Linked DNA regions of Homo sapiens: region 2 is linked to region 1. The links come from fine-mapping of genetic effects on gene expression. A gene starts in region 1. The other region holds a variant in brackets. All regions are shown on one strand. Distances are from middle to middle. Region 1 holds the start of DUT (deoxyuridine triphosphatase). Region 2 has its middle 59 kb from the start of DUT-AS1.

The links. PIP is the estimated chance that this variant, and not a neighbour inherited with it, causes the effect.
Region 2: its variant is fine-mapped to the expression of DUT in neutrophils (BLUEPRINT, PIP 0.95).

What each region holds. Positions count from the first base shown.
Region 1 is chr15:48,326,215-48,337,434 of GRCh38, forward strand. DUT (deoxyuridine triphosphatase) reads left to right here and starts at 5,215. Exons shown (of 7, transcript NM_001025248.2): 1 at 5,215-5,581; 2 at 6,054-6,192; 3 at 8,203-8,294; 4 at 9,832-9,876. The coding sequence starts at 5,302. DUT-AS1 (DUT antisense RNA 1) reads right to left here and starts at 5,642. Exons shown (of 3, transcript NR_186809.1): 1 at 5,349-5,642. RefSeq lists silencers at 3,254-3,444, 5,438-5,647, 5,698-5,992, 10,803-10,872 and enhancers at 4,723-5,249, 5,250-5,774, 5,698-5,992.
Region 2 is chr15:48,384,989-48,396,208 of GRCh38, forward strand. No RefSeq gene overlaps it. Among named protein-coding and RNA genes, the nearest start is that of DUT-AS1, 59 kb to the left of the region's middle. The variant A/G (reference allele first, on the strand shown) is at 6,606.

The sequences.
Region 1 (11,220 bases):
GGCTAATTTTTGTATCTTTAGTAGAGACAGCATTTCACCATGTTGGCCAGGCTGGTCTCAAACGACTGACCTCAAGTGATCTGCCCGTCTCGGCCTCCCAAAATGCTGGGATTACAGGCATGAGCCACCACGTCCGGCCTGTTTTTATTTCACTTCCTAAAACTCAATGATGCTTTAAAATGAAATAACAATAGTCTTTCTCTGGACTGTAATTACAGAACTTTTGGCTCCTAGTGCTTCTACGCCACTGGCATAATTCAGAGTATGCTTTTCATGGTGATTATGTTTGTTAAGAGAGATTGGGTATTCAGTGTATTAGGGAGAACTATAGTTCTGAGTTTGTGGCTTAAGTATTCTGCTCCCTTTGAGCCTTTAGTTCAATGAGGCAGTCATTTGTGAGCTTGTCCAAAGTAATTTTGCAGAAATAAATGCTTGTTTTGTTGATTATCTGCTAGCTCCTTAACTGTTTATTTAACTGCCATTCAATGTCAATCTACTGAGCTACTTACATGCTTAAGAGTTCTGTGTTGGTCTTATGAAATCAAGTCTACATATATTTATCTGGTCTTTGTGCTCTTCCCAAGAACCTGGCAGGAACATTTTTGTGGGTTTCATAAATTATACCCCAGTTCAGTGTTTTCACATTCAGCCATATATACTCTCGGGGGAGTATAAGACATTCCAAGGAGTTTCCTGATGGTATTCTGGACAAAACAGTTTTATAAGAATGAACCGTCAGCTAGTCAACATACAAATGTACTTTTTACTGAAACTGATCTGCCTATATTCTAGCCCTTCTTCCTACCTCCTCTATTGCAATTGCCCTTTTGCAAAAGATGGGCACACTTACCTATCCAAAACCTGACTGGCACCTTATCCTATGGTATAAAAACCTCTGGGCTTGAAACAAAGGAGCACTTCTAAATTTTGGTACCAGAACCCAAAGTATGGCTTCTGTCTTTTTTTGGCTTACACATATTTCTATTAAGCGTGAACTGTGGCATGATAAATGAGTATTTTGTTCCATGATGGAATGTTCTAAATTGAAATATAGATTCCTTCAGTTATAGGAAATGATGACAATTTTCCATTAATTTTTTCAGTTCTTCCATTCCTCAATGATCGCCAAAGAACATATTCCCCCGAGGAGGAGTTTGAGAGTTTTGTTCAAACTCACAAAAAACTAAGACAGCTCAACTGTCTATTGGAGATCCTCTCCATGGGAGGTTTGGGCAGAAGGACAGTGATCCAGATGGAGGTCGGAGATGAGAAAGAGGAGCAAAGAAAGTAATAAAAGCATGGGTAAATATTTTTTTAATGACTATAAAAAGTAGTAAAATAATGATGCTTATTGAGATTAAAAGATACATTTAATACACTAGACAGTAATAGCATATTTGTCAAAAGAAGGGTTAATGGTGTTAAAGCAGTCTAAGGTCCTTGAGTTATCCAGAAGACAATCATTTTGATTAATTTTATATTTTAGACACTGTATGTTTTAATTTATTTAAAATAATAAAACTAAAGAGTAAAACATCTAAATTAGAGGGGAAAGGTGAAATAAAAAACATTTAGTAAATTTCACAGAAGGCAGGAAAAGGTTTTAAAAAGGAACATCTGAAACCCAAATTAAGATAGGTTTAAATCCATCATGAAGGTTATATGATAGTGGAGGAAACAAACAGCTAACGAGTCAAGTGAATATACATGTAATTTTACATAGCAATATATACTATGCAGAAAAACCCAACAGGGTAAAGCATTAGATGCTGCCTAGGAGGAGACTATTTTTAGGTAAGGGAAGACCTAAGATAGAAAGAGGAGGTAAGTAAGACTCCAAGGGTTTTTATCGTGAGCAATAACAGGTTGAGAAGGGAAGAGGAGCCAAGGAGACTGAGGAGACAGCCAGTGAAATGGGAGGAAGTGTTTCAAGAAGGATGGTATGATCAACTGTGAAATTAAGAATGCTTGGCTTATTTACTACAAACATCTCTCCCAGACCTGGAAACACAGCCAGTAGCAAGGTCAGTATTAAGTTACCACAAGGCCAGGCACAGTGGCTGATGCCTGTAATCCTAGCACTTGGGCAGGCCAAGAAAGGCGGATTGCTTGAGCCCAGGAGTTCAAGAGACCCGCCATGGGCAACATGGTGAAATTGCATCTCTACAAAATGTACGAAAAATTAGCCAGGCGTGGTTGCACGTGCCTGTAGTCCCAGCTATCTGGAAGGCTGGGGTGGAAGGACCACCTGTACTCCAGCCTTGGTGACAGAGTAAGACCTTGTCTCAACATCAACAACTGCAAAAGAGTTACCATAGACTCAACAGGGGACATATAAATCTACAGCGCACAGTGGCTAAACGCAAGGGTTCTGAGGCCAGACTATCTGAATTGTGGTTTAACCTCCTTCTAGTTGTGATCTGTGTGATCTTGGGTAAGTTATTTAATCACTCTGTGCTTTGGTATCCTCATCTGTAAAATGGGGATAAAGAATTTGTTTCCTCTAGTTGTCATGATTAAACGAGTTTTTTTTTTTGAGACAGGGTCTCACTCTGTTGCCCAGACTGGAATGCAGTGGCATGATAATAACTGTCTGCAGCCTCCCAACTCCTGTGCTCAAGTGATCCTCCCACCTCTGCCTCCTGAGTAGCTAGGGCTACATGTGCCTGCCACCCACCATGCCTGGCTAATTTTGTATATGTTTTGTAGAGATGGGGTCTGCCTACGTTGCCCAGGCTGGTCTCGAACTCCTGAGCTGAAGCAATCCTCCCACCTTGACCTCCCAAAGTGCTGGGATTACAGGTGTGAGCCACTGCACCCAGCCAATTTTTTTTTTTTTTTTTTTTTTGCGACGTCGTTTTGCTCTTGTTGCCCAGGCTGGAGTGCAATGGCGCAATCTCAGCTCACCGCAACTTCCGCCTCCCGAGTTCAAGCGATTCTCCTGCCTCAGCCTCCCGAGTAGCTGGGATTACATGAATGTGCCATCACATGCGGCTAATTTTGTAGTTTTAGTAGAGACGGGGTTTCTCCATGTTGGTCAGGCTGGTCTCGAACTCCCGACCTCAGGTGATCCGCCCGCCTCAGCCTCCCAAAGTGCTGGGATTATAGGTGTGAGCCACCACGCCTGGCCTCGAGTTAATATTTTTTAAAGCACTTAGAATACACCTGACATAAAGTAGTAACAATGTGTATCTTTGTTAAAATGAGAGAGAAATCCCCAAAATGGCAAAGATAGGAAAAACAACCATGCTTTTCAAGTACTGACTTGCATTTTCAGAAGGTTCAAATTGGCACTAGACTTAGGTAATTGAATTAATCAGCATGACTGATAGGATAACTATAGTCTGATAAAGAAAACACCATGAAGGGCAGGGTGCGGTGGCTCACGCCTGTAATCCCAGCACTTTGGGAGGCCGAGGTGGGCGGATCACCTGAGGTCGGGAGTTCGAGACCAGCCTGACCAACATGGAGAAACCCCATCTCTACTAAAAATACAAAATTAGCCAGGCGTGGTGGCGCATGCCTGTAATTCCAGCTACTTGGAAGGCTGAGGAGGAGAATTGCTTGAACCTGGGAGGAGGTTGGGGTGAGCCGAGATCGAGCCATTGCACTCCAGCAAGGCTCTGTCTCAAAAAAAAAAACAAAAACTATGAAGTAAATTATGGTTGAAACATGTTTAGTTCTTAACTGCAGTATCTTGCATTTAAGGTGTATGTTCATAACAAGTTATATTTCTATTGTCATAAAGAACGTTCTATTAAATGCTTACTGGCTCAGAATCCTATTACTTTTTGCCAGTTAGATTATGGCCGTTTCTCTTTTAGTCTAAAATAAACTCAGCTGAAAAGTAACAATAAACACTTTATGTATACAGATTAACAACAAAAAATAGAAGGTAACCTGCTTGGTGTTAGATATTGTAATAAGCCAAACAAGTAACTTTTGTGTAAACACTGAAGTAAGTGCTTTGAAGAATTCATAAAAGTTTATGACTCTAATTCATGTGAGAGATAAAATGCATATACATCAGAAGATTACACAATGAAAGTATATGGCTAACGACTAATGAATGATATAGTAAGTGTTAAAAGAGATAAGATGGGGCAGAGGTCACTACTGATTGTAAAAAGTTTCATGAATGAAGCGAGACTTTTATCTGGGTCTAGGAAAATGAAGTCGTTACAATCATTACATCTTAGTACAAGCAAGGAATCAAATAGTATGTCTCTCATGTGAACATTTTAAGTAAATAACTGGAGAAAGTACTTCAACAAAATAAGGGAGCAAAATAATGTTGGCTCAAAATGAGGTCGAAAAGTTGCAGGGCTCGGATCGTGTTGCTAAAGGCATAAATTTGGGAGTCCTCAAGCTGTAGCTAATAGTTAACGTCCAGAGAAGGTAGTGTATATTCCATAGCCTCATGCAAAGGAATTCCAACTACGAAGACGAACCAGTTAAGGAGACCGAAAAGGGGGGGCCTGTATGGAAAGGCATAGCAACGAATGTAAAATTTCCCCAATAATACTCTAAAACTGCCCCACAGCTTTTTTAATTTTGAAAATTCAAAACCATTCAATTCAGCTCGCAGATTTTTGTGAGAAATAAGGAGATACTTGCAGCTCAGAAAAAATTATTAACAACTATCTAGAAAGTTACTGCTTTATCCCCCACTGTAAACTATACTACCACGACCCGGGATCCTTGTTCGACTCCTAGCCAAGGGGTTCCCACTGCGTTTCTGTTGGGTTATCCCAAACCTGTGATAGGATAGTAGCGCCCTCCCTGCCTCCGGTCGAATAAACACTACAACGTCTGACACTCGGTGCTGAAAGGAAATCGGGCGCGGTGTCTTGCCCACAGCTTGGGGAGCGGCCCCGGGCGCAATAACTGTCACCGGCGCCGAGATGCGGTTCCGGCGCTTAGGGCGCCGCTAAACTCAGAGCCCGGGAGTCATGGCTGCGGGCGGTGCCGCCCCAGGTAAATCAGTCCAGGAGCAGGGCCCGGGCCTGGCGTACACTCTCGGAAAAATGGGGGCCAGAGCAAACAAGAAGAGCGAAAGCAAGAGGGCTAGGCAGCCAGAGGCGGCAGCAAGACTCAAGACGCCAACGGCGCCGTCTTCCTGGGGCCCCAGGGCCTGCGCCATCCCTGGGCTGCCGGGGCACCGCCTCTCCACGCCCCTCGTCCGGCGGCGGCTGCGACTGCTTCCGAGGTCATGTTCCCAGGACGGGCGCGTCTTCAGGGTGGAAGCCTGGCGCACGTCCGGAGGTGCCGAGGACCCAACCAGCCCAAACTCTGGGGGAAATGACTCCCCTCTGCCCTCGCCCCGCGCTCTGCTACCATTTCCTTACGTCTCTGCTTCGCTCAGCGATGCAAAACGCGCGAGGCGCACGGCAGAGGGCCGAAGCCGCGGTACTCTCCGGGCCAGGCCCGCCCCTCGGCCGCGCCGCGCAGCACGGGATTCCCCGGCCGCTGTCCAGCGCTGGCCGCCTGAGCCAAGGCTGCCGCGGAGCCAGTACAGTCGGGGCCGCTGGCTGGAAGGGCGAGCTTCCTAAGGCGGGGGGAAGCCCGGCGCCGGGGCCGGGTAGGAAAGGCGGGGGAGGGGCTCCGGCCGTCTGGAAGGAATCCACGCGGCTTGAGGCTGTGGGGGAAGTAGGGTGGCGAGCGGTCCTTCTGCGCGCGGGGGGCGGGGGGGGTGGGGTGGTCCATTAGGGTCCCCTGGCGAGGGGGCGGCTTTCTAGTGTGTGAGGGCGACGCCCTAGAAGCTCCCCTTCAAAGTTGGCCCCACGCGCTGAATGTGGAAAGTTGACTGGGACCCAGTAGTTTCCCATCCCAAACCTGCTTTCCGAGAAGGGCTTCAAACCCAAAATGTGAATCCCGCCTCCCCTCTCAGCCAGAACTGTGGACTCGTCCCGGGGAGGGGCGGTGGGTGGGGCGGGGCTGGCGGGAAATTTCGGTTTTGGCGCGCTCCCTGCGGCGACGCTCATCGTGCGCTCTCCTCTTCCCCCGGTGGTCTCCTCGCTCGCCTTCTGGCTCTGCCATGCCCTGCTCTGAAGAGACACCCGCCATTTCACCCAGTAAGCGGGCCCGGCCTGCGGAGGTGGGCGGCATGCAGCTCCGCTTTGCCCGGCTCTCCGAGCACGCCACGGCCCCCACCCGGGGCTCCGCGCGCGCCGCGGGCTACGACCTGTACAGGTGAGCGGGGACCTGCCGGCGAGGAGGCTGGGAAGGGCCGGCCGTCCGCTGCCACAGCTAGAAACAGTCACCGGAGAGATCACAGGAACACACTAGCTATAAATAGGATTTCTGCCTTTTTCGTGTTTAAAATTTTAGCTTTCATCTTTGGCATAAATTAAATAGAGATTTGGGCAAAGACTGCAGAATAAGTAAAATAGCTATACGGTGTCTAGCAAGGCGTTACTTTGCAACGTTTATTGTGCCCTTCCTAAATAGAAGATAGAGAGGAAGGCCCATGGTGGCTTTCGAGTGGCCCGAGGGTGATGCTGTGCTCAATAGAAAAACCAAGGTGAGAGCCTAGATGTGAGCGTGAAAATACCTAAGAAGGATGAACGAAGATGCATCTGCCTTAAAAAGTTATTTTCTATACATTCATCCGGCCCAGGGCGGAATTTGAGAAGGCATCTGAAAACGAAAGGCAGAGCTGCCTGTAATCTACCACACTTTCATCTCTACAGCACGTTTTACCTGTACTAAAAACTTTCCGTATGCTGTTGTATTTAGTCCTCACAACAATCCTTAACTAGATAAGTGTTACTTTTTACACAGGCAGGAGTTTGTGAAGAGCTGAATTGATTTCCCCAGAGGCTTGAAGATGATATAATTTTTTATCCCGAATTTTGGGCTTTTTTTTTTTCATCTGACTACTGTGCCCAGTTCTTAGAACCATTAAGGTAGGAGAAAAGTAATGCTGAGAGGGAAGGAGATTTTATACTAAATCCCAAGCATTGGGATTTATTTTAAAGTATCTCAGATAATTCAAACATGAGAACTATTAGTCTAAGCACAGGAGAAGAGAAAGTAGTGCCTGATGATAGCAACAGAAAAAAAAGGAAAAGGAAAGTAGGTATGGACAATTGTAGCTGGAAAAACTACAGTCTCTTAATTTTGATGAATAAAAGTAGAGTGATATAGTTTGACTAGACCTTTCCAAAGTATATTTTGGAGCACTTTCTTGAGTCCTAGGGGAGTCCTTGATTTAAGATACCTTAAGTAGACTCCTAATAAACACAGGTGACTTTCTGTATACTGAAATTGACATGGAAATAATGGATCAGCAATAAATTAGGGCTTAACTGTTTAAAGAGGGATTTCAGTGAAAGAAGGGGTAGTACTGCTTTACCAGAGTTAATTAAGGTCTCCAAAGTAAACTTCCGGTTCTGCTCATTGTAAAATCTCTTAAATTTCTACCCAGGAGAGGGCCACAGTAATATCAAGAGTAGCAGCATTTGCTATGTGGACTTTAGAGGAATTCTGTTCCTAAGCAAGGTCCATCTCCAGGGGCCGTTCACGGTGATCAGCTGTCTCCCTCAGCCAGGAAATTCATAGCCTAAGCTTGGTAAACTACCAAGCCCTGCCTGACAGATACAACACAGTTCTTTATCTCTTATTTTGTCCACCCGTTTTTCTCCTTTCCTTCTGCATATTTTCCCTAATCACACAGATCATTGTGAGAATAAAATGGGTTAATATATGTAAACCAATTAGAACTGTTCCTGGCACACAGTAAAGGCTTAATCAATGATAGCTAGTATTATTAGTAGTATTTGGCCTTTTTTCTTTGTTCTTTCTTCATTTTTTTCCTTTTCAAACTATGGTTGTAAAGCATCCACCTTTTGAAAGTTTGCCTTTCTGCCCTTTCACGCTGATAAGTACCTCAGTTTCCAATAAACTTTTGTTCAGGGGCAAACATTTACAATGTTGACATCTCTTCACACCACCAAAAATATTCATGGAGAATTATTTTATCTAAAGCTGTCTTTTTAATAATAAAATAGCCACCTCTACCTTCTTCATAAACTTTTAAGATGAATTGGTAATTCATCATAGCAAGGTTGATTTTAGAAACTAAAGTTGCATTAATTCATTAAATACACTGAAAGTAATTTTGTATGCTTGGTCACAAAGAAAATATAAAAACAATTTTATAAATAGATTTGCAGTTATTTTCTTTCAATATTTTCTTAGTGCCTATGATTACACAATACCACCTATGGAGAAAGCTGTTGTGAAAACGGACATTCAGATAGCGCTCCCTTCTGGGTGTTATGGAAGAGTGGGTAAGTCATTTAAGAAACAGGTAACTATTTGTCAAGTTCTCCTTTGTGATAGATTCTTCATGTTTCATTTGGGGTAATAAGCAGGCAATATTGCTTGGGCTGTGTCCTAAAAGAAGCACCATTTGTGATAGCAAATGCACTCTTTGAAAGGCTTTATTTACATCTCTGCTTTGCCTCTTTTTGACCCTTTTATTTTTCTCCTTCCTCACTGGAGCTTTTAGGCTCACACTGGCCTAGAAGGCTGTTCTCAGAACATGGCATTTTATATTATGAGAGTAAAACTTCTGACCTGTTGGTCCCAGAATGTGTAAGCCTACTTAACCTTTTCTTGTTTGGCCATGGGGTTAGGGTAAGGGATACTCTTCAGTGTTGTAGAGGCACTGGGAGGAGCTAGGACAAAATGGAGTACACGTCAACAGGTTTGATTTTTCTGGAGCGGATCAGTTGTTACCAGACAGTTCTTTGCAAGAGCGTAAGTTCTTTTTGACTAACTTCAGAGTAAACATAAAGGAGGCAATGGAGCTGTGACGCCCTCCTCCAGGGAAAGGAGCTAGACTGGCACTATATTATTAGCCATGAGTGAGGAAACTGCCAGTACTTCAGCCCTTAAAAGATAACAAGATGGGCTCTCATCTCATCTCTTGAGCATCATTGACTCCATTTTTTAGAATTTTTTCAGGGGAAGGGGCAGGAGATGGAGTGAAATAAAGGTTAGTACAGAAAGAGGCAGCATTATTGACAAAGTGCCTGATTTAAATTATTCTAAAATAAAATGCTGGAAGTTAGGATAATTAATTATAGGCCTGATGCTTGAGTCTGCAATAATAAGGTGTAACCTTAGCTTTTTATTTTTTTCATTTTTTAGGATTAAAAAGTATACTAGCATTGAATCATTGAGACTTAGTTTTTGGCATTTTTACTTAACTGATATTAGCCCATTTATCTTACTCTGGTTCATGTGTTTCCTACAGGCATGTCTTTTGGCATCTGAATCATGAATAGTGGGGTCCCAAGTTGTAGGCTATGGTCTGCTACTATTTGGTTAGGTTTGTTTCCCTCTCCCTTCCTCTTCCTTTCCCTTCCCATCTGCATTGTACATGTTGTGGTGTCCCATCTTAAAACCAAAGTCTTCTTCCTCAGTAGTGTGTTCCTGCTGGCCATACTTCTCTTTCTTCCCCTTTGAGGCTTAACTTCTTGAAAGAGCAGCCTACAGTTGTTCCCGCTTGCTCACCTTTCAGCTCATTCTAGCAGTCCTTCTCCCCTGTCTGCAGCACCACAAATTCTGACTGAAGTCACATGGGAGTGGTTTAAGTTAGTTTTGAATTAAAACCTTGTGGAATTTTTCTAAACTAGTCTTTCCAACTTTGGTAATGCAGTATGATGAATATATATTCTTTAATTCAAAACCATGTGCTAAAGTTAAGATGAAGATATAGATATTATAGGTGAAGAGAATGACATGCTTAAATTGCATCAGTTATCTCTGATATAGCCCTTCCCCCTTAAAATAACCAATGTCTCCTTTTTTGTTTTTTAGCTCCACGGTCAGGCTTGGCTGCAAAACACTTTATTGATGTAGGAGGTAATATATTTCCTTTTTTATTCTGTAAATGTTTGCAAGTATTTACTTTGTCTTTAAAAGGTAATATTCAAATGACAGATTTTATTTTTAAGAAAAGAAAATGATTAGAGGAAAGCTTGTTATAATAGGAGGAAAAGCTTTGTGGTTATTTTAAGTAATTATATTTTGTTTAACTACTAACTTAATTTTTAAAATAATGATTACCTAATTAATAATGACAGATTTAATGATATAATAATTAAGTAATTATTTAAGCAACAAAAGTTCTAGAAAACACAGGTCTATCTTGTAAGAATTTTCTTCATAAGAGAGCTATCTGTCTTTAGCAAAATTTAAGAAGAAAATCTTTCCCTGAAGTCAGGAGAGAAAACACTTTTCTCTAAATTTGTTAAGACAGTCCTCTGTGTTACCTGTTTCCCTTATAATAAAGCCTTTCTCATGTTTGTCTCAAAGTTAACCCTACCTCATGTGGTACCTTTCATGAAGAACCCTCAGTGTCCTCTGCTAACTACTCTTGATACAGAGCTACTCCTCTTATTGTAAGGAAATTTCTACTTTCCTGATGTGGTTTCCTTGTTTCAGGTCCGCTCCAACTGGGATTCAGACCCCACTTATGTGGTCCTTACATACTGACCCTTTATCCCATCAGTAGTGAATCTTTCACTTAACAAGATACCTTGGCCCCCACATAAGTAGGTGTGCTAGATCTCCTCCTCCACCCGTTTTTACAGAGCTGCTTTATGGAGGCTTGTTAACAGATCAGGAAAACTGGCTTAGAAATGAGCCCACATGGATATGTGGTAAAAACTGGAGTCTCTGTGTGATTCCAGCCTCCTTGTTCTTTCCACTGCAATTAATTGTGGAGATTACCCTGCTGCATCCCCCTCACCAACTAAACACGTCCAGAATTAGCTCACTTTTATGTGCCACTGCAAGGGCTAACTAAGCACTTAATGAAACCTGGCTATCCTAGACCTGCCCCTTAGTCTAACATTTGGTGGGTGTGGTGTCTCTCCATAGTGTCACCAGGTGGTGCTGTGGGACAAGACAGGACCCCAAAAGTACACCCTTTAGGGACTAAAGGGGAGCTGAGTTTTACATAGCAGGGTGGACATTGACAGCCCACTCTTGGGTTGAGGATTCCTTGGGCTCTGTAAGTTATGCCCGATGTTCAAAAATGCTTTTACAAGGTCAACTGTGGTCATTTTGGGACAGTAACTTAAGGATATAAATAATTGTATATATTTTCAATGAAGTTTCAAATGATTGTTCAAGGAACGGGAGCTTTGGAATAACAACTGGATGTAGGTCCCAGCTCTGTCATTAACTAGTTATTACTTAACC
Region 2 (11,220 bases), 59 kb after region 1:
CAACAAAAATCAAATTCTTGTCAGGCAAAGTCTTTTGACGTTGTTTTATTCTTGAGTGAATATTTACAGCTGAGTTGGAAACTCTATCAAATAGGAATTAGAACTTTGCCAACTCCTGATGTACATCTTAGCCAGGGTATGCAGGGTATGCACGCAGCCTCTTCAGAGCTGCTCTGCTTCACTGACCAGGGGTTGACTGAGTTCTTCACTCTGTAACCATTTCCTGACATCCTCTGCATGGACACTCTTGCACAGACATTTTTTTTTTTTTAATCTAGGAGTTGCACTTTCTTGGTTACTATGGCTGCAAATTGTTTATACTGGATTCATAGTCAGGTTTTTATTTCCTTTTGTAATTTTTCCCGTGAACTAATAAGCCACAGTGGAGTTAAAAGTGCGAGTAAATGTGAACTCTACACAAAGCATTTTTATGTTCTATTGCCATTCCCTTCCTACCCTTAATCATTTAGAGCTGTTAACATAAAAAAAAATAAAAGTGTTCAGCCTCCTCTCTACTCCCCTCCTTTGCCCTCTCATTTCCCAAGCATCAGAGGGGAAGAACCACCACCCATTTCCCATCAGGACTGTTTGCAGAGTAACACATGTCCTCAATTACTGGGATCAGAAACTGAAGGCACCTTGGGTTGGTGATAGATGACTGGTTGGCCTCTGCTGGATATGCGTCATGGATGCCACAATAGGAATGGCTTAGCAGGGCAACAGTTTTCTCTCCTATGATTCACTTCAGCTTTTAGCCTGGGCCATCCACCCAGTACTCATTGGATATGGGCCCAGTTTCAGCTTATATGTGAACCACTCTATGAGAGAATGCAAGCTGAGAGCCCATCTTAGGGGAGAAAGATCTCAAACTGAATCAAGAGGGGGAAATGCTTAAGAGTTACCTTTCAGCCAGGTGCAGTGGCTCACGCCTGTAATCTCAGCAGTTTGGGAGGCCGAGGCAGGCAGATCACAAGTTCAGGAGACGGAGACCAGCCTGGCTAACATGGTGAAACCCCATCTCTACTAAAAATACAAAAAATTAGCTGGGCATGGCGGCACGTGCCTGTAGTCCCAGCTACTCGTGAGGCTGAGGCAGGAGAATCGCTTGAACCCGGGAGGCGGAGGTTGCAGTGAGCCGAGATTGGGCACTGCACTCCAGCCTGGGTGACAGAGCGAGACTCCACCTCAAAAAAAAAAAAAAAAAAAGTGACCTTTCATAATAGGAAGAGACAAGGCTCTAGATAAAACTGCCTGGGTTTGAAACTTGGATCTACCACTTGCCAGTTGCATGACTTTTCGCCAAGCCACATAATTTCTCAGCCACAGTTTTTTTCATCTGGGAAAAGGAAATTAAGAATGATAATCCCTAACTCATGGAGTTGTCATGAAGGTTCAAGCACACTGCATGGCATTGATTAAATGCTCAATAAGAGCTAACAATTATCCCAGTCAAGAACTTTTTCGTAGCAATGGACCAAACACTTCTCACAACAGCTTAAGCACAGAAAGGCAGTGATTGATTCATATGAGATATGGATGGTCCAGGGAGTCAAGAAGTGTCAATAAGACTCAGTCTCTGCTCCCCTTGGTTCTGCTGGTGTGGTAGCCAGCCTACCAGGTGACTGCCAATGATCCCTACCTTCTGACAATGTCACCCTTGTGAAGTTCCCTCCGGCAGTGCACCAGGGTGGGTCTATGTGACCAATATAGTATGAAAGAAAAAATAGTATGTTGCTTCCATGTTTAAGTTATAAAAGACACCATGGCTTCCATTTGGCCTCTATCTCTGTCTCTGTCTCCCTCCCATTATTCACGCTGGGGAAGCCAGGTGCTATGTTGTACTCAGCACTACAGAGAGGCCCATATGGTAATGAGCTGAAGTCTCCTGCCAATAGCCACATGAGGCCATTTTGGAAGTGGGTCCTCCAGCCCTAGTCAAGACTTCAAATGACTGAAGTCCCTGCTGACAACTTGACTGTAACCTCATGAGAGACCCTCAGTGAAAACTATCCAGCTAAGCCACTCCTGGGTGCTATCCAGCTAAGTCACACTTGACCCTCAGAAGTTGTGTGAGATAATACAGATAGCCTTAATTGACTATGGTTCTATTTAAATGATTTTTTCAGCCTTATAATGGTGTGAAAGCAATATGCATTCGGTATAACCATACATCAAGTACCTATACAACCATCCAATTTTTCACCTTCAGTACAGTATTCAACAAATTACATGAGATATTCAACAATTTGTTATAAAATAGTCTTTGTGTTAGATGATTTTGCCCAACTGTAGGCTAATGTAAGTGCTCTGAGCAAGTGTGAAATGGGTACCATTTCTATCTCTATTCTATGAGGAGTAGAGGATCAGAAAATTTAAGTAACTTTCCCAAAGTCACACAGCTAGTAAGTGATCAAGCTAGAATTTGAACCAAGACACTTTAGTTCTAAGGTCCATGGTCACAACCACACTGCTAAAACACCAATACTATGAAGTATCACAACCTGTTGAGTTTTGATTTCAGGTATTTTGTCCTCTTATGTCTCAGTTTTACTTTCTTTCTTTTTTGTTTTTTGAAAAGGAGTCTCACTCTGTAGCCCAGGCTGGAGTGCAGTGGTGCAATACTGGTTCATTGCAACCTCCACCTCCTGGGTTCAAGTGATTCTCCTACCTCAGCCTCCTGAGTAGCTGGGATTACAGGCACCTGACACCATGCCCGGCTAATTTTTGTATTGTTAGTAGAGACAGGGTTTCACTATGTTGGCCAGGCTGGTCTTGAACTCCTGACCTCAAGTGATCCGCCCACCTCGGTCTCCCAAAATGTCGGGATTACAGACATCAATTTTTCATTTATGGAGTATGTGTCTCTACTGAATTAGAAATGGAGATGGCTTGGCCTTAACTCTGAAGTACTGGACAGATGCAGTTAAATACCAGTGTGGGGGGAATGTATAAACACTTTCTAGTGATGTGCATCCAGAGTTCTACTGTAAGCACCTCCTGACTGACAGACCATTCACACAAAGGCACCCTCTCTTCCAACACTAAACACCAGTGATGGACAAGTGGACATTTAAAAAGTCATGGATCTTCTGAGTGAATATTCATGTAGAGAGGTACCTTTAATATAAGCCATTTAATATTGGCTATAACCCATTTACATTCCTATGTTTATATTTGTTCCAATCAATTGCACAACAACCTTCCTCATCTGGCCATATTAGTAGGAAATTTATTGTTTTCTTCTGAAGCCTTGGCTCCCAACTTAAATTGTACAGAAACCTGGTGACTTGTTCAGTGCAGATGGGTTAGTTTGGCTCCCAAGCTTTAGGCTGTTTGGGCAGTTAATGCCCTAGTGTGGTTTGCAGGGTGCCCTGCATGTTGTCTGCTGTGGCAATGGGCCCTCATGAGTCCTGCACTGGCTCTGAATTAACCTCACCTTCAGGCTTCAAGATGTAGGCTCTCTTCAGTTATATGCAGAAGGTTATTTATAGCCTCCCAAACATAAATACCACAGCAGGGTGGCTGGTCTTGGCTGAGCATGCAGGAGTCCAGCCCAGGCTACACTCCTGGAACCAGCTCTTCCTATAAACCCGTGGCCTTGTTCATTGATCCAGACTCCTGCTTCCTGCCTGTGAAGTTCTTCTCTGGGCCCCTTGATGTCCCGGGGAACTTCTGTTAGGACTGTCTCGATCCATCAGAGAGGCTTTCATTCTGTAGAACTGCACAAACACCCCAGCAGTTCTGAACCTGGAGTGTGTAACACACCCTTCTTCCTGGAGAGTGGCCAAGTCTGCATAACCTAGACCATCCAAGTGTTGTAGGGAAACATCGAGTATCATCTTTCCCAGGATGACTTTCTGCATCTTCCTAAACACAAAAGCTCTTGGCAAATTTTCTTTCTAAAAATGTATTGAAGTTATACTTGGCTGGACATCCTGCTAGAGAAATTTAACAACTTCCCAGTGTATTAGAATCTTGGGCATACTCTCAGATGGAGCCGGCCTTTCTAGCCCCATGTCTTTAATAAATCTACTTGATTAGAGAAGAGACAATTCCCTAAAGAGAGGGCACTACCATTCCCAGAAAAAGAGAGGGCTGTTGGGCAGACAGACCAAAGGTGACAAATACATTGAACAATGTGTCTGTGTCTGGCTAGCTTTGTGCTTGAGAAAGGGGAAGACACAAACTTTTTGATTCTAGCTGGTCCTATTCTTACTGCAATAAACTAGGTATTGTTCACCACTTATGACATTTTAGTAGAAAAATTAATTTTGAGCTAATGAAAATTTGAGACAAGTATATGAATTCAGAGGTAACAGGGAGATGGGGAGTAGTTACTAAGTAGATTGTTGTTATTGCCTCAGGATCTTGACACTCTATTCATTTTCTATGCCCCAATTCCATTGGGAATAAGAGGGTAGCAATTTTATCAGTTAAAAATACACAGGTAATTACATAGTGGGCAGTTTCATCTCAAAAATAAGAAGGCACCGAGCAAAGCACCAGGAAATACCAAAACTATTTGGATGATCAATGTTGAAAGGAAAGAACTCACCATTTCTTCTCTCCTCTCCTCTCCCCTGCCTTCTCCACCTCCTTTCTTTGAGTGAGCAACTTGCTACGGATTAAGAATCCTTGGCAAAAGCATGTCCCTTTTGAGGCAAGGGGAAATTAATATTTGGGGGTGAAAGAGAGAAGGATTGGGAGAGGTGTAAGCAAGAAGCCAGGTGCCGATGATTTCCCTGGAAACCTAAGACTTTCTAATTAAAACCTGGCAGCCCCACCGAACAGCTTGCACCATGTGGGAAAGAAAAGCCTGAAAGGTTGGGACAAGGAGGCCTGATGTAATTACATTCCACTGAGTGAGGATCCTTTCCTGTGGGTCAGTATTGTCCTGGGAATATCATATTCTGTTCCTAATAAATTTCAACAGGCAAAGACATGGACACATCACCTAAAAGAGGTCTTCAAATGATTATGGTTCCTAAAAGTCAGGAAATAGGTCTGATTTCCCATTAAAGTAGGTTTTTCTGTTCAGCAGGGTTCCCAGGTCGCTGTCATATAAAAGTTATTTGCTGACTCATCTTGAAATTGGAGAATTTTCAATTTTCCATTGTGCATAGTTCTGTCTCTTTCCAGAGTTTTCTTTTTAAATAATTTTGTGCAATATATGTGAACTATGTTTCCCTGTTTTATATCCTAACAAGAAATGTTACTTGTTCTTGATTCCGATAAAGATGGGAGAAACACGGTTTTTTCAGGACTTCTCAATTTAGTGTGTAAAAAAGCATAAGACATGGAAAATTAGTGGCCTCATATTTTGAGACAAACTATTGAAAAATGTGTCTTTTATTTAAGTCTTTCCACATTTTAGTAAGACTTTAAAAAATTATTGCACTTAAGAAGTTTTTTTTTTTTTTTTTTTTTCTTTTGGTCACTCCTTTGACGCTTATTTACATATATGGCCAAATAAACTAGCTTAAAAAAACAAACAAACCTTTGTTTGTTTGTTTGTTTCAGTAGGAAAGAACATGGCTTCCAGTAACTCTTCAGTTACTTTTAAACAAATACTATCTCTCCGTTCTGGTACAGGGTCCTACTCTTCCTGTCTTGAGTCCTGGCCCTGGCTAGGTGACTGCATCCTGAGATTTGGGGAATGGAAAGAATTTTGGAGACCCTCTATTTTGTATCACAACTAGTAAGGGGTTCCATCCACACCCTCGTCCCTCTCAATTAGGCCTCTGCTTGTACATTCAGGGGTGTCTCTATTTTGTGAGGCTTTTTCCTGGAGGAGATAAACTCATTTTCAAAGTTGGGCAGGGCAGAAAGACTGGATACATTCAAATTCATTTGTTAATTCATGCATTAATTTATTCCTTTGACAAATATTTAATGAGCACCCTTGTGCTAGGCAGGCTTTGTGTTGGCACTGAGGACAGAGATCAACAAAGCAGACGTGTTCTCTGCCTTCCTGGAGGTCCCAATAGGGGTGATAGACATTGACCAAGTAAGTGCAGGGACAACTAATTGCCAACTAATTGCACATTTTGCAATTATGATAAGTGGCATGAAGGACAAGTAGAAAGGATGATAGGGCTAATCATAGGGAGAGATAGCTTAGACTAGGGGGTCAGTTGGAACTATTAACTAACACTCTTTTCATTTTTCTCTTATCACCCAAAGAAAGCCGGGAGTATGAAAGTATGGGTTAGAATTCCTTAAAATAACTACTTATTAGAAAGGGCAAGAAGTATCATAAATGAAACAGTATTGATACAACCTAGAAGTCATTGATAAGGGAATAGTTAACTACTTTATAATATACATTATTCAGCAATATTATTTAGCCTTAAAACTAACTTAGAAAGGAGTTGTTATGGGTTTCAGAAAATTCTTATGCTCTAGCATTGAGAAAAATTGCAAATGCAGCGATTATCTCAAATATACTATATATATACATATGTCTAGCAAATATCTGAAAACCATATCAACATGTTTTCCATTTTTATTTGTATTATTAAGGATGTTACAAGTATGTAGCTAAAACATATTTTTCATGAATACATGTAAAGCAAACATCTGTGTAACCACAGCTAGATCAAGAC[A/G]TAGAACACTGCCACCATCCACAGGCCGCCCTTTCCTCCCTTTCCCCTTGAACAGCTTGTATCATAATTCTGTCTTCTCACCTAAAGGTAAACACTATCCTGATTTTTGTGATAATCATTTTATATATATATATATATATATATATATATATATATATATATATATATATATATACACATACACATACACACACACACACACATAACATTTTAATATACATATATTATGTATATATATATACAGTTTTATCACCTATATGTATTCATAAGTAATGTAAGTTAGTTTAGCTCAATTTCAAACTTAATATATATAGAATTATACTTTCCTTGTGTTTTAACTCAACCTTGTTTGTGGAATTCATCCTTGCCATTGTGTATAGCTGTGGTTAATTAATTTCATTGCTTTGGTGTCCCTAGGTATGAATGAATGTAACACAGTTTATTTATCCATTCTACTATGAGTGGATATTTGAGTAGTCTCCAGCTTGGGCCTTTTACAGATAGTATTGCTGCCAACCTTCTTGTCCATGCACATTGTACACAGTGCATTGAGCCTCTTTACTGTACAAAGCTCAAGTGGACTTGCTGGGTCATAGGAGGTGCTGGTTATTTTCGGTTTCTACCCTTCCGCCCTAATCCATTCTTTGCCTTTCTGTGCCTTGCTCTGTGTTTCTTTATGTACCATATTACTAGAGTACCTTGCCTTCAGCTTTTAGTTAGGTTTGGGCAATGGGAGGTAACAGTGTGAGTTTAGGGGGTGGGAAAAAGAGTTTGGAGCATTCTCTGATTTCCTCTTGGCCTTCCCACAGTTCTGGCAGTGGCCGCACCGCGTTTTCTCTTAGGTTCTAGCTCTTACAAGACTCTGGTAACATTCTTTCCTCCTCTTGTTGTTTCAGGCTTAACAGGCTTTCCCCACTTTCTGTCCCATTATTCTCATTGCCAGTGGCAAGGAGCCAAGAACCTTCTTGTCTCTGCAGCATAGAACAGAGACAGAGCCTCCTGCCCAGCCTTCCAGGAAGCCCGAGTTCTCATCTTAATTCCCATACCCTGTTTCTCTGGGTTCAGGCTAAGGTTACTTCTCTGTTCACTAAAGCTGCATTTATTTTCTGGGTTTTTCTCTGATCCACTTCCAGAGACTATGACTCCAAGAGCAAAGCAGTCTGTTCACGAAATAGATCATTCCCTCTCAGTGCCCAGATTCTGTTGACCTAATAATCAATCAGGCCTTCTCATCTCCTTTCTCTCTTCCGTCAACTTCTGCTTCCCACACAAACGGTCCTGGTACTCCTGTAGCTGCTCTTCGCCCTCTCCGGGGATGTTCGGGTCTCCTGTGGATCTAGACAGGCATTAGTGGTGAATGCAGGTTTGGCGTCAGAGTGCCTGGGCTCAAATCCCTGTCCTGCTATTTATTAGCTGTGAACCCTTGAAGAGGGTACCACTCAATTTCTAGTAGGGCTTCTTTCTAGTCTGTAAAATGGTGATAATGTAAGAATAAAATGAATTACTCATATAAACTTCTTAATTGTGTCTGGTACCTGGTACATTCTTAATAAATGTTAGCTATAATTGTGGTTATTATCTGATACTTATATAAAAACCCATCATGTCATAAAAGCCTTCTGTCATGAAAAAGATATATATATATATATATATATATTTAGGTTCATGTAGTAGTAAAGTGTTTACTCCTCGAAAAAGCCCAAAGGCAAGCAGATATATGAGAAAAAGCATTGTCATATAAACTGCTTTATATCATGATGACCAATCCTCTCTTCCAACACTTCTCAAACCCAAATCCTTTAGGGTCTAATTTGGAAGTGGAGAGGGCAGAGGTGCATGGAAACAGAAGCGGCGCTGGTGGGGTGCTGTGTTTCATGCCTAGGTTATGGTGCACGACAGACACCACACACTGGAAAGTAGAAGCTTACCAGAGGAGATGGCAATTACAAACGCCCTCAGGAATTCATAGAAACCAGGGGGAGAGTTTTACATTTCCACAGGCTGGTGGGGTTGGGGTAGGGGGTGATGATAGAATTCAAGCCCATCTTACTCTGATCTAAGGGGCAAAGACACCCCATCTGAGTTATTCAAGTAGAGCCCAGAATGGATCACTGGCACCATCTCCCCCAGTTGTTGACAGTTGAGCAAGGAGCCGGGCGTTCTCCCCTCCCCTCCTCCTGCTGTGCTCTGTCTTGGCCGCCTTCCTTATGGATAGGCCATATGGGCCGTTTTGGAGCCTGTGTTTGCTTTGGCTTGGTGGTTCGCAGCTTACTTCCTGTTAACATTCCTCCACCTCTCACCCCACATTATGGGTCTCTCTCTCAGAGCCACCTGCTCTTTCTGTTCTCTGTGCCCATAACCTCAGCTCTCTGATTTCTCCATTCATTGCTTGGCTCTTAACTGGGACTCAAATCTCACTTCTGTTTAAGTATTTTCCATGCCAGCTTCTTGTTTGGACCAGATAGTGTTTCACCATGATGGGCCTTTATTAGGAGACAAAGGGGTGATCGGGGTGGTACCGGAAAAGGCAAGTTCATGTATCCAAATGACTGTCAAGTGAGACCAGAAAAAGCCCTTCTTCCCATGAGTTTTTGTCCAAAAAGCATCAGACCTAGTATAGAGGCGATTATGGCCAAAAAGGCGAGCGCTGAGTTTGAGGCCAAAAAAAACAGCCTAGGAGTGGAGGGAGGCACAAAACTGGCACACGTGCCTGTAGATTCTCTCACATTTACCCTCCTGGGTCTCCTTAACCCAGGCCCTTGGCCTAGTAAGAGTGCCAGGCCAGGCCACAGTCCAAGGCCAACATGTGTACGAAACTACCACACCCCGCATGTGGCATGACTTGTTCTGGCTACTCACAAACGACTCGATGTTCATCTCCTCTAGTGGAGTTCAGATAAGGCCTTTCAGCTTGGCTGTCTCCATCTGGTTCTTCCCATTGAGCCCAGGTCCAGTGGCTCCACAGAGAAACACCTTAACCTGCCTCAAGAACCTCTTCCCTTGACTTCAACTCAGGTGGATGTCCCAGCCAAGAATGCTTTGGCAGGATGAAACCGTGCTGTGAAGAGCGTGTTCAGGGTGTGGGTTTAAGTCTCACTTCAACCAGGTCTTAGCTGTGTGACCTTGAGCAAGTCCCTTCACATCATTCTACCTGTTTCCTCTTTTGTGAGATGGAGCTAATTATGCAAAGAGGTGTGAGAATTCAAAAAGATCACCCACGAATAATAAGGTGGGACAATTCCCTGAAAAGCACACCAGGCCTACTGAGACAGGAAATAGGCTTGGTGTTGTGTATGGAGAGGTAGACCTTCTTTGCCATTTAGGGGATGAGATCCATAGCACAGTAGGAAGTATGGTGGGTAGCTGAGTCTGGAAAACAACTGTGTGTGTGAATGCAGAGGACTGCATATAAAGTGCCAGAGCTGTGCCTGGCACTTGTTGTTTGCCAGCCAAGGGTCCCTGAGTTGAGAACACACACACCAAGGACAGTGGAGAAGAGCAGATGCCATCCTTACATGTGCAGTGTTTTTGGCCTTGCTCCCATTCTGAAAGTGCCTGTCTGAAGGGATCTGGCTCCTGGAATGGGCAGGGGTTTTTGTCATCTGTTTCGCTGGGAGGAAGTCCACAGTCAGGGATTTTGTAGAATCTTAATGGTGACCGCCAGGCAGTGGCAACTATAGCCAAAAACAATGAGGCTCCTTGGTACACTAAGGAAGGCTTCGGGTTTAATGCCTTAGGGCAATACTCATCTGGACCGACTTTTTAGACTGAAGAAGCCTTCCTGGGGTCTTGGGGTTTTTACATAGACATAACAGGGGTGCCAAGGCATTTAGTGTACACATTTGAAAGATTGTGACTGCATTTTTATCCCAAGCTTATGAAGCAGCTACATTTGTGAAGTGGTTAGCAGGCTGCCTGGCATATTTTAAGGGTTTCATAAATGATGCTCATTATTATTAAGCACGCGTGTCACAGCAGCCAGAGCACTGAGCAGCGCTCCTTGGCAGCTGCAGCTCCCCAAGGGGAGGGCGGTGCCTTACAAGTTGGGAGAAGACAGTGGAATCATTAAGCAGCTGACACATACCCAGTCACTCCAAGGAATCTCCCATCCCTGTTCAGAAGTCTGACCCAATTTGCTCAGCTTTTCTCCTGAGACTCTCTTGTTCCAGCCACAAATCTGAGCTGGGAGCACCCTTCCTCTTAGCCACCTGTGACTGGGAGGCAGCGGGGGTGGCCCAGAGCTCACCCTAGTTGGGAGACTTGAGCAGTAGCTCCTCTCCTCCAGCATTCCCTGGTGGGGGTGTGGAAGGCTGTGAGTAAGGGAAGAGAGAGGGTGTGGGGCACCTCACATGGTCAGGGAGGGCTCCCCTCCCTTGGAACTCACAGCAGCCAGGTCATGGGCTCACTGGGGTTGTTTATCATCCTCAGTCTTGGGGAGAACAGGCTCACATGACAGCGCTTTGCAAATCGGTAAGTTTTTTTCCAAACATACAAAAACCTAGGCCTGGGGTTTAGGACTTCTAGAACTTCAGAGCACACGGTCCTGTGTCATGACTCTCAAACGGGGACACACATCACTTAAGTCAAGTGGAGGTGGAGCTGTCACGTTAGTCAC